Linked DNA regions of Homo sapiens: all the other regions are reported to be linked to region 3. The links are microRNA targets in miRTarBase. Many come from high-throughput screens and were not tested one by one. Region 3 holds a microRNA gene; each other region holds the end of a gene's coding sequence.
Evidence for each region. The annotated mature microRNA hsa-miR-576-5p reads AUUCUAAUUUCUCCACGUCUUU and lies in region 3 at 2,056-2,077, shown strand. An mRNA with a match to its seed (bases 2 to 7 or 8) in the 3' UTR can be bound and repressed. Matches are read on the target gene's strand: a 7mer-m8 pairs with bases 2 to 8, a 7mer-A1 pairs with bases 2 to 7 and ends in A, and an 8mer does both.

Region 1: the mRNA of SMC5 is a reported target of hsa-miR-576-5p. Seed matches in the 3' UTR shown: 7mer-A1 at 1,570-1,576.
Region 2: miRTarBase lists DPF3 as a target of hsa-miR-576-5p. Seed matches in the 3' UTR shown: 7mer-A1 at 2,567-2,573.
Region 4: the mRNA of LRPPRC is a reported target of hsa-miR-576-5p. Seed matches in the 3' UTR shown: 7mer-m8 at 697-703.

The regions. Positions count from the first base shown.
Region 1 is chr9:70,351,765-70,354,929 of GRCh38, forward strand. SMC5 (structural maintenance of chromosomes 5) reads left to right here. Exons shown (of 25, transcript NM_015110.4): 25 at 427-3,109. The coding sequence ends at 567. Among named protein-coding and RNA genes, the nearest start is that of KLF9-DT, 61 kb to the right of the region's middle.
Region 2 is chr14:72,616,699-72,619,863 of GRCh38, reverse strand. It overlaps DPF3 (double PHD fingers 3), which reads left to right. Exons shown (of 11, transcript NM_001280542.3): 11 at 497-3,165. The coding sequence ends at 567. It also overlaps a transcript of RGS6 not described here. Among named protein-coding and RNA genes, the nearest start is that of MIR7843, 100 kb to the right of the region's middle. RefSeq lists an enhancer at 1-1,188.
Region 3 is chr4:109,486,658-109,489,822 of GRCh38, forward strand. MIR576 (microRNA 576) reads left to right here and starts at 2,041; the gene lies at 2,041-2,138. The region is part of intron 4 of SEC24B (SEC24 homolog B, COPII component); the gene reads left to right.
Region 4 is chr2:43,886,056-43,889,220 of GRCh38, forward strand. LRPPRC (leucine rich pentatricopeptide repeat containing) reads right to left here. Exons shown (of 38, transcript NM_133259.4): 38 at 169-2,601. The coding sequence ends at 2,545. Among named protein-coding and RNA genes, the nearest start is that of ABCG8, 49 kb to the left of the region's middle.

The DNA.
Region 1 (3,165 bases), not on the chromosome of region 3:
GTGTTTAAGAGCTTCTTAAGAGTCTTATTGGCTGGGGACAGTGGCTCACACCTGTAATCTCAGCACTTTGGGAAGCCAAGGCGGGCAGATCACCTGAGGTCAGGAGTTCGAGACCAGCCTGGCCAACATGGTGAAACCCTGTCTGTACTAAAAATACAAAAAGTTAGCTGGGCCTGATGGTGCATGCCTGTAATCCCAGCTACTCTGGAGGCTGGCTGAGGCACGAGAATCTCTTGAATCTGGGTGGTGGAGGTTGCACTGAGCTGAGATCGCACCTCTGTACTCCGGCCTGAGCAGCAGAGTGGGAAAAAAAAAGTTTTATTAATATTGCAAATAAAATAATACATTTGACTGTACACATGTAAGGTTGGAAAACTATACTTCTCAGTATATAGCTTATATGACAATTTGTTTTAATACTTACAGCTCCTGCAAAATCTTCCTTATTCTGAAAAGATGACAGTTTTGTTTGTCTACAATGGCCCTCATATGCTGGAACCAAACACATGGAATTTAAAGGCTTTCCAAAGGCGGCGGCGCCGTATTACATTCACTCAACCTTCTTAATAAAAGTAAAGAGAGGGAACTTGGGAATTTTTTTTGTTAAATTCTGTTTATAAGTATGGCTCAACTGAATAAAAGGAGATTCACTAAAACGAAAAGCAGTTATTTTTGGAAACCTGCTTTTAAATACAAATAGGTTGATAATGGAAACTATAATGACCTTTCCAAAATAGCAGCTGGTAGTAAAAGTTAAGTCTTCTTCAGTCTTGGTTGAACTTGAGTTCTTGGCACTCTGACCATGAGTCATTCAGTTCTCATGTTAAAATGTACTTAATATTACAAATCAAAGGTACAGTGGAAGAAGGGTTAATCACAAGAAGTTACTTATATGGTAGCCCTGAGCTTTAATTGCAGAGTAACTTTAATTACTTTTAGAGCCTAAAGATGACTCTAGAGCCTAAGTCCTAGTTTCTCCCAATGTTATATTTAATTTTAAAAAATTGATATGAAAATGTCTAATGTATAGTAATAATTTATGACAGATCTAGTCATTTCTTCCTATTAAAAAAGATTACCTTATCTCCAGTAGGAAATGGAATTTTATGGGCCTTTAAAAGAAAGTTTTATGAAACTTGATGCTATAATTTTATTGGTATTTCAAGGGGAAAAAAGCACTGGGGTTCAAAAATGGTAGCAGAACTGCTTTGAAATGCTGCAAGGTGGCCACTAGATGATGCAAAATACAACCAAAAGATTGACTGAGAATAAAATTAGGTGACAAGGGTTTTTAAAGAATAACCTTTTAAAGTGTGGGGGCAGGGGTTGCTTTTTTTTATTTTATTTAAAGTCAATTATATTTTACATCTTACATTTCTAAAAGCATTTTATAATTATTTTTAGTAAGATTTTTCTTAAAATTTCATATACTGGTTTCTACAATTTATATTTGAAATTTCTCAGTGTTATGTAAAGAGTGATGGAAAAGCATTGATTTCTTTAAAACCGTAATGTTTTTAGAACTTAAGCCTATAGGGCCTTTCTTACAATGTTGATGTACCCATTATCTTAGAAAATCTAGTTTAAACTGTTTTCTTTCACCGCAAAAGAATTAAATGGGAAAATCATTTGTTTATCTCTAAGTTATACTAATTAGTAGAACCAAACAAATTATCTTCTTTTAAAAAATAAATCTTATAGGAAAATAGACAGTCCAAAGTCATGTCTTTGAACAGTGGATTGGATCTGTGCCAGTAATGACAAAATTATTTTTTTGACTTGCTTGCCTGAATAAATTGAAGAATTGCTTTCAGTTTGGGTTTTGTATATTCTTAAGTAGCCATTGAAATTTATATTCTTAACTAGGTCAAAAAATAATGAGCCATAAGTTTATGTCCTCTCACTTAGACATTTTCTCTTTAAAAAGGTATTTTCTTCTTTATAAACATTTTAAAAGAGCCTTCCCTTCTTAAACTAACTCCAGTGCATGAAGTGTGAAAATATTTTAAAATGACATTTTTACTAATATGAGCAAGTCATGTAAACATTGAAGAACTTGGTAACATATTAGTAAATGGATATTACCAAATGTTTTCATCGTTAATTACTTTGCGTTCCACCAAAATATCTTTACTAAAATGTGCTTGGTGTAGTTTGTTTATTGTCTAAATTAGTACCAGTCATCTTATTTCTGCAAAATGAGTATCAATGTGAAAAAGACACGTGAAGATTAAGCATGTTTGAAAATAAAATGGTCAATTACATTTCAATTTACATAGGCCAACAACTGTTCCATACTTTGTTTGTAAACATTTAATTTCTCTACTGGACAAAATTAATATTTGGCTTTACATTGAATTTTGAGCTGTGAAGAATAAATTATGTATCATTTTAGCATATTAAACAGTAGTAAGTCTAGCACATAGTCTCAGCCACTTAAAACAAAAGTTTTTTTGTTTGTTTGTTTGTTTGTTTTTTTGAGATGGAGTCTCACTCTGTTGCCCAGGCTGGAGTGCAGTGGCGTGATCTCGGCTTACTGCAACCTCCGCCTCCCGGGTTCAAGCGATTCTCCTGCCTCAGCCTCCCAAGTAACTGGGACAACAGGCGCGTCCCACCACACCCAGCTAATTTTTTATACTTTTAGTAGAGATGGGGTTTCAGCATATTGGCCAGGCTGGTCTCGAACTCCTGACCTTGTGATCCACCCGCCTCGGCCTCCCAAAGTGCTGGGATTATAGGCGTGAGCCCCTGCACCCGGCCAAAAGTTGATTTTTAATTACATAAAAATCGTAAAAACTTCTAGTAAAAACTTGATTTGGTGAATACAGTTATATTTAAAAACCTTAAGGTGACAAGCATTTTCTATGCCTAAATCTTCATTGGTTTGCCTGGAAAGAGTCTCTGTTAAAAGATTTTCCATATTCAAAGTAAAAGGAAAGATTTCTTGCTTTCTAATTGTCTTTTGGACACATGCCTATTTTCTTTGAGGTATAAACCTTTAGATGTGAAAAATGTAATTTCATTCTGCTATTGTGTGTGCTTGTGTGTGTGTAATTGAAAAAACTGGGAAATCCTGCTTTGTTGGTAATAAATCAATATTTTTATATTCTTTTGGTGTATGTTATTTTAAGTGAGAACTATTTTTTATACTCTGAACCTTATTAA
Region 2 (3,165 bases), not on the chromosome of region 3:
ACTACTACTACTAGCACTTACTGAGCTCTCACTATGGTACAGGCCTTATGCTAATGGGTTTACATGTTCATGTCTTGTCTCATTTAATCATCACAACCCCACAAGGTAGGTACGACGACTGCCATTTTACAGATGAGGAAACTGAGGCACAGTCCAAGCAGCTGAAATTTCAACTTGAGGGCCAAGGAAGTTTTTCCCAGACATGCAGTGGAGATGACCGGGAGGTGTGAGCTTCCAGGAGAACTGGCGCAGGCCCGGCGACACTAGTTTGGAGGCATGACGCTAGTAGTGAGGGTCTTGATAAGAGTTGAGCCCATCTCCTCTGAGCACCTGCTTTCTGCTGAGCCACAGACTCTGGCACGTTTTCAGGCCTGGGACTTGGTTTCTGCATTGCCAAAGTTCAAAGGAAACAGGATTTACAAGAAGTTAGGGCCAGTGGGGTGGGGCTCCAGAGTTAGCAGAGGGGCTGCTACTAAAGCCGTCTCATTTCTTGCAGGAAGCTGGAGCTGCCACTTATGCTGGGAACTGCTCAAAGAGAAAGCCTCAGCCTTTGGCTGCCAGGCCTAGGGCCCCAGGTCACAGAATGTGACTCGCTGCTGGAGATCCTAAAGCAGAGCCCAGTTCAAACCAGAACGCGCCCTCCTCCCACATATCCAGCCAGACCAACTGCAAGGAAAAGAAATAGTCCCAGAGGGGCAGGGACACATGGAACGAAGAGGGTGAGGCATCTCCTGACCTCCCCCGATATGTACGGAACTTCAGCCAGCACCTCCTTGTCTCTACCGGAAGGAAGTTGCACTTTGGGAGAACACCTCCGGCCCCAGCCCTGTGGAACCCCTCTCACTTTTACCCTAGCACCGAGGCCCTCTCATTGGTTCCCATTTTAAGGGAAGCCATTTCCTGACCACTCATCCATTACTTGTGTGTAGTGTGGTGTTTTTTTATCTATTGTGTTCCAAGAAATCTTGGCACAGCCCCCGTGCCCCCAGCTTAGGGTCTGCATCCTGAAATTCTCACCTGAGGAACAAAGGGCTGTGGAGAAGTTGTCGTTTATGGCAAGCCTCACTGGAAACTTCTAGACTTGGGGTCTTGAAACCCTTTCTTGTTCCTTGGTGTCTGTGGAGACAAAGAGTTGCCTTCTAGAACCCCAGCAGTGGCATCCACAGCCAGCCTGGTCTTGAGCCACTGCTTAAAGTTACTAGATGGGGGCGGGGAGGGAGGGAGACGCGCAGAGACATGGGAGGAAACATTGTGGAAATGGTGCCAAGGCCCCGCCATAGCCAGTCAGTACTTGTTATCCATCGGGAGAGACTTTGCAAGAGGCCAGGCTGGTTCCTTGACCTTCAGAGCTGGGGCATCCTTTAGGTGAGACCAGTCATGGCCTATGGACAGAGGAAGACGGTCAAGCCTCTGCCTCTCAGCCCACCTGGTTCTGGAGACCTGGTTCAGCTTCTCCTGGTGGGACTGAAGAACCAGGAAGGGGAGCGAAGGCTGCCCAATCATGTGTCCGAATGCTGGATACAGGGGGCTGCAGCTTTGAGAAACCTTCAGTATTGATGCGACGCTCTGAATTCCTTTTTCCAAGTAATTTCTTCCTTCCACGTAGTGTTTGTTCGCTATTGTCTACTGAGACCTGACTGGGAATTTTAGGATGGGGGAGAGAAGATTGTTATCTAAACAAATAATTAGGGTGACATGGTCATTATTCACGACCAGGGTGGCCACATTTTAGAACTCTCAGTGCGGGGGCTGCTCTTGTCTCCTAAGCTCCCCAAACATGCAGGACTCTTGTTTTCAAAAAAAAATGTGTCTAGAAGAAAGAGGTGGGGAGGCTGAGCTTCCGAGAACTCTGTGTGTTGGAAGATAGCCCCGAGGGCTGGAGCGGATTGGGCTGACTTTGAATCGCAGCAGCAGCACAATAACTGACATATTTCTGGAAAAATCATTTGCCCAAAGGGCAGGTCTCGGTGAGCGGAACCCTCGCGCATGCTTGGCTTCTCTGAAATCAGCTCCATCTCTGTGGTCTGGCTGCTCACAACAAAGGCCCAGGTTATTTTTAGTTCTTCAGCTCCTGAGGACGCTCCCGGAGACTCGGGCTAGTTGGGCCACCTCTGCCCGGCCGCAGTATTTGTGCTGTCCCTCGGCAGGAGTGCTCCTCTCTAGGCTAATTGCTCTTGGCCAGTGGACCCAGGGCAGCCTGGCATGAAACCAAGCAGTGTGGGTCTCCCCCACGCTTCAGCAGAGTGACCTGTGGCAAGCGATGGGGGTCACTCTCCTGCAGGGGCCTGTGGCCTCAGAGGGAATCACACACATACATAATGGTCTCATTTAAAGGGCCCCCGACCGGATGGAATTTTCATCTTCCTCATAAGTAATTTCCTTCCGCCTGCTGGTCGGTGAGCTTGTCTGAATCCTGAAGGCCCAGGGAGGGATAGGGAGGGTGACATTCCATCAGAGGGGCACATTTTTTCTCCTGACTACTCCAGCTCTCTCTCTTCCCACAAAACCCAAAGCAGGCTGTCTCCAAAGGCTAATAATTGGTTTTGAGCGTCATTTTAATTTAAATTTAGAAAAAAAAGTTCCCCAAATGTTCCCAAGTGCCACAATAGCTTAAAAGTTTAAAAAGCAAGTCCGAAACCCCAAACTGTGGCTCTACAACTTCACACGTCCTCTTCAGAGTATGTGCAAATTTGTTTTCCACAGAAGTGCAGGTGATAGGGCAGCCCTGTTCGATCTCAGCCCCATGTCTGCTCTGCCTACACAAGCTGAGCCTCAGCTGGGTCTCCCAGGCCAAGGCAGGGCACTGGAACTTGCCTGCACTGGTGAGGGTCAGGGCTCTGGAGTGACGTTAGGATGGCCCCGGAGTTCCCCTCTCAGCTTCATTACTCCCTGAAGAATGGGCCCAACCCATTCTTCATCTTTGGAGGCCTCAGTTTCCCCATCTGGAAAGCGGGGATAGCAAGCCAGCTTGTGGGCTGGCACTGTCAGGGTACTACAAGCAGACAAAAGTCTCCGTGGTCACATTTATCACCTCTGTGTTCAAAAGAGGACGGGGTTGGTAAACTTTAAATTGGTCTCTTTTTTTTGAACCCCAGAGAATGAGATAGAATCATAGGATGCATGTGAAGGATCAGAGTTTTTGTGTTGCCTCTGCCATGGAGTAGC
Region 3 (3,165 bases):
TGTAGTGTGAAGTGACTGAGGCAAATCGATGCTATCCAAGGATTAAGCATGGGACAAGTACCAAAGCCATTGATTCAGTGGAAACCAGCTTGTATGCTGAAAGCAGTATTTTGCTTGGTATCAGGATTCCAAAGATCAATATATTAGCATAGCTCTGGCCATCAAATACGTATAATATGATAGGGAAACAGATACCATATGATTACAGTACAACTTGAAAAGTGTAAGCAGGCGCGGTGGCTCACGCCTGTAATCCCAGCACTTTGGGAGGCTGAGATGGGCAGATCACCTGAGGTCAGGAGTTTGAGACCAGCCTGGCTAACATAACGAAACCCCATATCTACTAAAAATACAAAGATTAGCCGGCCGTGGTGGCTGGCGTCTGTAATCCCAGCTGCTTTGGAGGCTGAGGCAGGAGAATCACTTGAACCCGGGAGACAGAGGTTGCAGTGAGCTGAGATCACGCCACTGCACTACAGCCTGAGTGACAAGAGTGAGACTCTGTCTCAAAAAAAAAAAAAAAAAAAGAAAAGTGTATTAATTCAGGATTGAGAATGTGCTCCTGCATAGAAGAGGAAATGATTTTCTGTGGGCATACAGGAAAAGTTTGACAAAGGATTTGAAATTTGAAGGATGAGTAGTAATTTGCCATGTGAAGAAAGGAAATTATGGCTAACAGACATAATGCATAAACAGAAGAAAAAAATGTAGTATTGGGTCAAGAGTCAGAAGTTTGGTGTAACTGCAAAATAAGGTAAAAGGGAGGATGGTAAAGGGACAGGTGAGAGATGCAGGTGGAAAGGACAAGTAGAAGCCAAATTTTGAAGTTTGTTTTATGACAGTGTGAAGGCATTTACACCTTATTCACTAAGATGGTGGGGAAATTAGTAAAGGCTGTTTCTAAGCATGTTCAGAATGTTAACACATAAGTTTTCAATCAGGTACTGTTTTATAAAAATACCTTTTTGATTTATTTGCCAGTAATGGCATGACCTCTGATTAATGCGTTACTTAGAACGCATTAATCTAAATAGCAAAATATCATGAGTCTGTTTAGCTTACTGATTTATTTGGGTTTATAACAATTATCATTGCTTTGATATTTTGACAGGTTCACAAATAGAGATTTGCAGTCATTTTTTCTTCTGAAAGTGAATTTAAAGTAAACTAGCAGATTTCAAACTATTCAGTAAACAAAATAGAATAAAAAAATTAATACTTTAAAACTTATAGCCTTATTAAAATGAACAATCTTTAAAATATTAACAGTTGATTTGACATGAAAGAAACTAAACATCTTAACTGAGTAGTAGTATGTTCTTTGGAATAAGTTCATATATAAGTAATCTTTTATCTTTGGACTTTATTTTTTTTCAAGAGTAGTTATTTCTTGATATATACATTTAAAAGTTTTTCTTAGAATGCCCATGATATTTTTAATAGCAGTTTTGAGAAATAATTCACATACCATAAAATTCACCTATTTAAGTTGTGCTGTTCTGCAGTTTTTAGCATATTCACAAAGTAGCAACCATCACTACTATGTAATTCCAGAACATTTTCTTCACCCCAAAATAGAAACTTCATATGTTTTAGCCTTCTTCCCATTCTACCCTCCCCGCACAACCACACGCAGCTCTAGGCAGCCATTAATCCTCTGTCTCTACAGGTTTGTCTATTTTGAACATTTTATATGTAGAGATCATATAATATGTGGTTGTTACTTGCATCTTTCTTTTAACATAATGTTTTCAAGGTTCATCCACATTATGGCATATGTCAGTACTTTATTATTTTTTGTTACCAAAAAATATTCCATATGTGAATGTATCACATTTTATTTATCCATTCATGAGTTGATGGACATTTGGGTTGTTTCTGCTTTTTGGCTGTTATGAATACTCCTGCTGTGAACATTTGTCAACAAGTTTTTGTGTAGGTTTATGTTTTCATTTCTCTTGAGTAGAATTGCTGGGTCAGAACTCTGTATTTAACTTTTGAGAAACTGCCAAACTGTTTTCCAAAGTAACTGCACCATTTTACAATCCAACGAGGATTCTAATTTCTCCACGTCTTTGGTAATAAGGTTTGGCAAAGATGTGGAAAAATTGGAATCCTCATTCGATTGGTTATAACCATCCTAGTGGATGTGAAATGTTATCTCGTTGTTTTGATTTTCATTTTCCTAATGGGATTGTGATGTTGAGCATCTTTTCATGTGTTTATTGGTCATTTGTTTATCTTCTTTGGATAAATATCTGTTCAAATCTTTTGCCCATTTTAAATTTGGTTATTTGTTGTTTTATTGTTGAGTTGTAAGAGTTTGTTACATATTCTGGATATTAACCCCTTATCAGATATATGATTTGCAAATATTTACTCTCATTCTGTGGGTTGTCTTTTTACTTCTTGATGATACGGTAACCTTTAGAGCACAAAAGTTCTTAATTTTGATGAAGTCCAAATTATCTTTTTTCTTTTGTTGCTTGTACCTTTGATGTCATATCTAAAAATTCATTTAGTCATGAAGATTTATTCCTGTATTCTAAGAGTTTTATAGTTTTAGCACTTACATTTTATGTCTATGATCCATTTTGAGTTAGTTGTGGTGTAGGGAAGGGGTCCAGCTTTGTTCTTCTGCGTGTGGATATGTCTAGTTGTTCCAGCACCATTTGCTGAAAAGAATATTATTTCCCCATTGAAATGTCATGGTAAATTGTTTAGTTTTATTAAGGAAAAATATGCATAACATAAAATTAACTGTTTTAAATTGTATAATTCAGTGGCATTTAGTACATGTACAGTGTTGTGCAGTCCCCACTTCTATTTAGCTCTATCTAATTTTGTGAAGTACTAGACATTTTCATCATCCCAAAAGAAAATCCTACACTCAGTCACTCCCCATTTTCCCCTCCCCTCAGCCTGGGTCTTTCATATAAATAGAATTATATATATTATATATTATAATATATATGGTATATATATGATATATATGGTATATATATGATATATACATGTGATATATACATATGATAATATATATGGTCTTTTTTGTTTGATTTATTTCACTTAAGCAAATTTTCAGGTTTCATTCACATTGTAGCGTGTATCCATACTTCATTTTTATGGCTAAATAATATCCCATTTTATAGATATACCATATTT
Region 4 (3,165 bases), not on the chromosome of region 3:
GCATGCACCTGTAGTCTCAGTTACTTGGGAGTCTGAGGTGGGAGGATCACCTGAGACTGGGAGGTCAAGACTGCAATGAGCCGTGATCACGCCACTGCTCTACAGGCCGGGCAACAGAGTGAGACTGTTTGTTTAAAAAAGAAAAAAAAAAAGCAGCAGCAGCCCACAGATATTTACAGTATACTTTATTCAAAGCATTTCAGTTAAAATTATTTTGGGTTCAAATACATGAACATATAATTATATATAAAATACTATAGTTCTCAATAGTTTACAGTGACATCTTTTTTAGAATTAGCTGCTTATAATTTGAGTGTAAATGTATTACAGAAAGCTGCTAAATTGTTTATATTTCTACTTATTTCAATTTAGCTATTAGATATTTAGAACACTCATAAGCCCACCTACAGTATAGTTATTATACTTTAAATATTTATATTCAATAGGGGAATCAATACAATACAAAAGATATTTGAACAGCTAGTCCTTTGTAACACCCCCCCGCTGCTGCCGAGAGGGCTAGATAAGGGGGTCTTACCTATTTCCTCTGTACCACACTCACATTTTACCAGAGTCCATATACAGGGCCAGTGTGGAGTCACTTCATGCAAATGAGATGGTACTTTCAGTTTCCCCAAAAAGATGACTGCGAAATCCAGATTACACCCCAACGTTATGCCTCACCTTGGAGACCTATTCTAATGAATGTCAATTAGTGAATGTTGACTAACTTGTGGTTAGCATGACTGCAAAAAAATGAGGCCTGCTTCAGTGCAATCACTAAAGACAGGAGTGAGGCTCTTGGCCAGGCGTGGTGGCTCACACCTGTAATCCCAGCACTTTGGGAGGCTGAAGCGAGCGCAGGGGGAGGATCACTTGGGGCCAGGAGTTCGAGACCAACCTGGCCAACATGGTGAAACTCCGTCTTTACCATACAAAAATTAGCTGAACATGGTGGTGCAAGCCTGTAATCTCAGCTACGTGGGAGGCTGAGGCACAAGAATCACTTGAACCCAGGAGGCGGAGGTTGCAGTGAGCTGAGATTGCGCCACTGCACTCTGGCTTAAGCAACAGAGCAAGACTATCTCAAAAAAAAAAAAAAAAAAAAAGATGCTTTTGGCAAACCTGTAACATGTGCAGGTCCTGCATCTGGGCAGTGCTCAAGGGAAAGCCGCACTATGTCCACTGGGCCAAGACTCAACGTTGGCCATGCCCCCTGCTTCCTTAAATCTAACGCCACAAAAAGAGTTGAAGTAAAAGCCTGGCCAATACCATGATGACATCTACTTCCTGGCTTCCCGCCATCAACCCTCCCTCACACCATCTGCGGGCAGGTAGCAGATGCAGGAGAGAGAGTTCCACAAGACAGAAGGTCAACAGCACAAGTTGCAAGAGGCCCGCCTACGTCCCCAAGGCAAGGTCTCCCCTGATGTGAACAGTGTGACCCAAGTTGGCACTGAAACTGGAACAGTAGGGAGTCACCAAATTCAAATGAACAAGGAATACCCCAAAATGGGGAGAGTTCTCAAAACATTTTCAACATTTCGGTAATTAATTACCTCATCTCCAGTTAGGTCAATATTCCATATTATTAAGACACCTTTTATAATGGCAAACTCTCCTGACTACCTATCTTAGAATTTTTTTGAAGTCACTACTTACAGTGTAGATATTAACAGGCATGAGATTCAATATAGGGATCACTTTTATTTCAAACAATTAAATACAAACCAATATTTTACCCCTTCATAGATGAAATCACATCTTTTCAGGATATGAGTATAAAGTAACAAGCCTAGGGCAGAGCTTGTACTGACAAAGTCCTGAAACTACAATGAGAGGAAACACATTGCTCTACTTCGGGATAAGTCATGACCGAGACTCAATTTCAGAGACGCTCTATGAACAGAGGTGCTTGAAGCCACAGTGGCAGAAGGGAAAGATGGGGAAGTGTGCCGAAGAGCCTCCAGGCATGACAGACAGTCCCCTGACCAAGCACAAGTAACAGGCCCTTTGGGTCTCTGCTTCTCACTGGAAAATGATGAAGCCTAGATCTGATGACTCCTAGTGCCAACATTTAACAAAGTTCGAAAGTTATGCAGGACTTCACACATGTACGGAATGGCTGTATCACAGAATATTATGCGTTAGAAAGTTCACGGTCACTATACCTAGCTCTAAAATTTTTCAGAGAAACAGCAGACTAATAAGTGAATCTTAAATAAAGGAATAACATTTTAATGAAATAAATGAAACAGAGCAGGGAAACCAAAGAGCCAATTAGGGGAAGAATCCTGAAAAAGTATGGCTTCACACAGCAGCAGCATTGAAGAAAACACTATCGATTTTTCCCAGAGAAAAAAACTCCAAAAATGTCCAATAACCAAGTGCACAGAGTTATGGTCAATAAGACTTTGAACATGCATCACACATACATAAGTACATAAAGAAAATTTTCATTTATTTTTCCCTCAGATATACTTCAAAATAACATGTAGACACAGAATCACAAATATATACAAAACAAAGTATCGCCTGGTTATTTCAAGAAGAGTTTTCCCTCAATTTTCTTAGCTGCTGTGCATAAAATTCAAAGCTTTCCTGTTAAGGAGAAAAAAAGAGGGAAGTTAGAGATACCAGCAAGAGGTGATGGTACATAACTTAAAAAATCATAAAACACTACCAACTGGTAGCTAAGACTGCCAGGCCCATGGAAGATGCTGCCCCTCAAGCTTCAGTACTCCTTCCTTGTTTCATGAAATCACAAGTTCAAGGGCCTCGGGTTCAGAGTTAAAGCTAGCAGCAGGAGGTAGGGTGCGTGTGTGTATACGTGTGTATGTGCAAGCATGTGTGTGTGCACATATGGAGGTATGGGTATGGAAGGCTGAGGTGTTTGAAATAAACACGGTGTATTGACTCAGTTCAATGACATAACAAAAAGGAATTGTGCATATGTGATTTCTCTTATTAAAGAAAACATGCCGGGCACAGTGGCTCACGCCTGTAATCCCGGCACTTTGGGAGGCCGAGGTGGGCGGATCACGAGGTCAGCAGTTCAAGACCAGCGTGGCCAACATGGTGAAACCCCATCTGTACTAAAAATACGAAAATGTGCCAGGCATGGTGGCAGGCCCCTGTAATCCCAGCTACTTGGGAGGCTGAGGC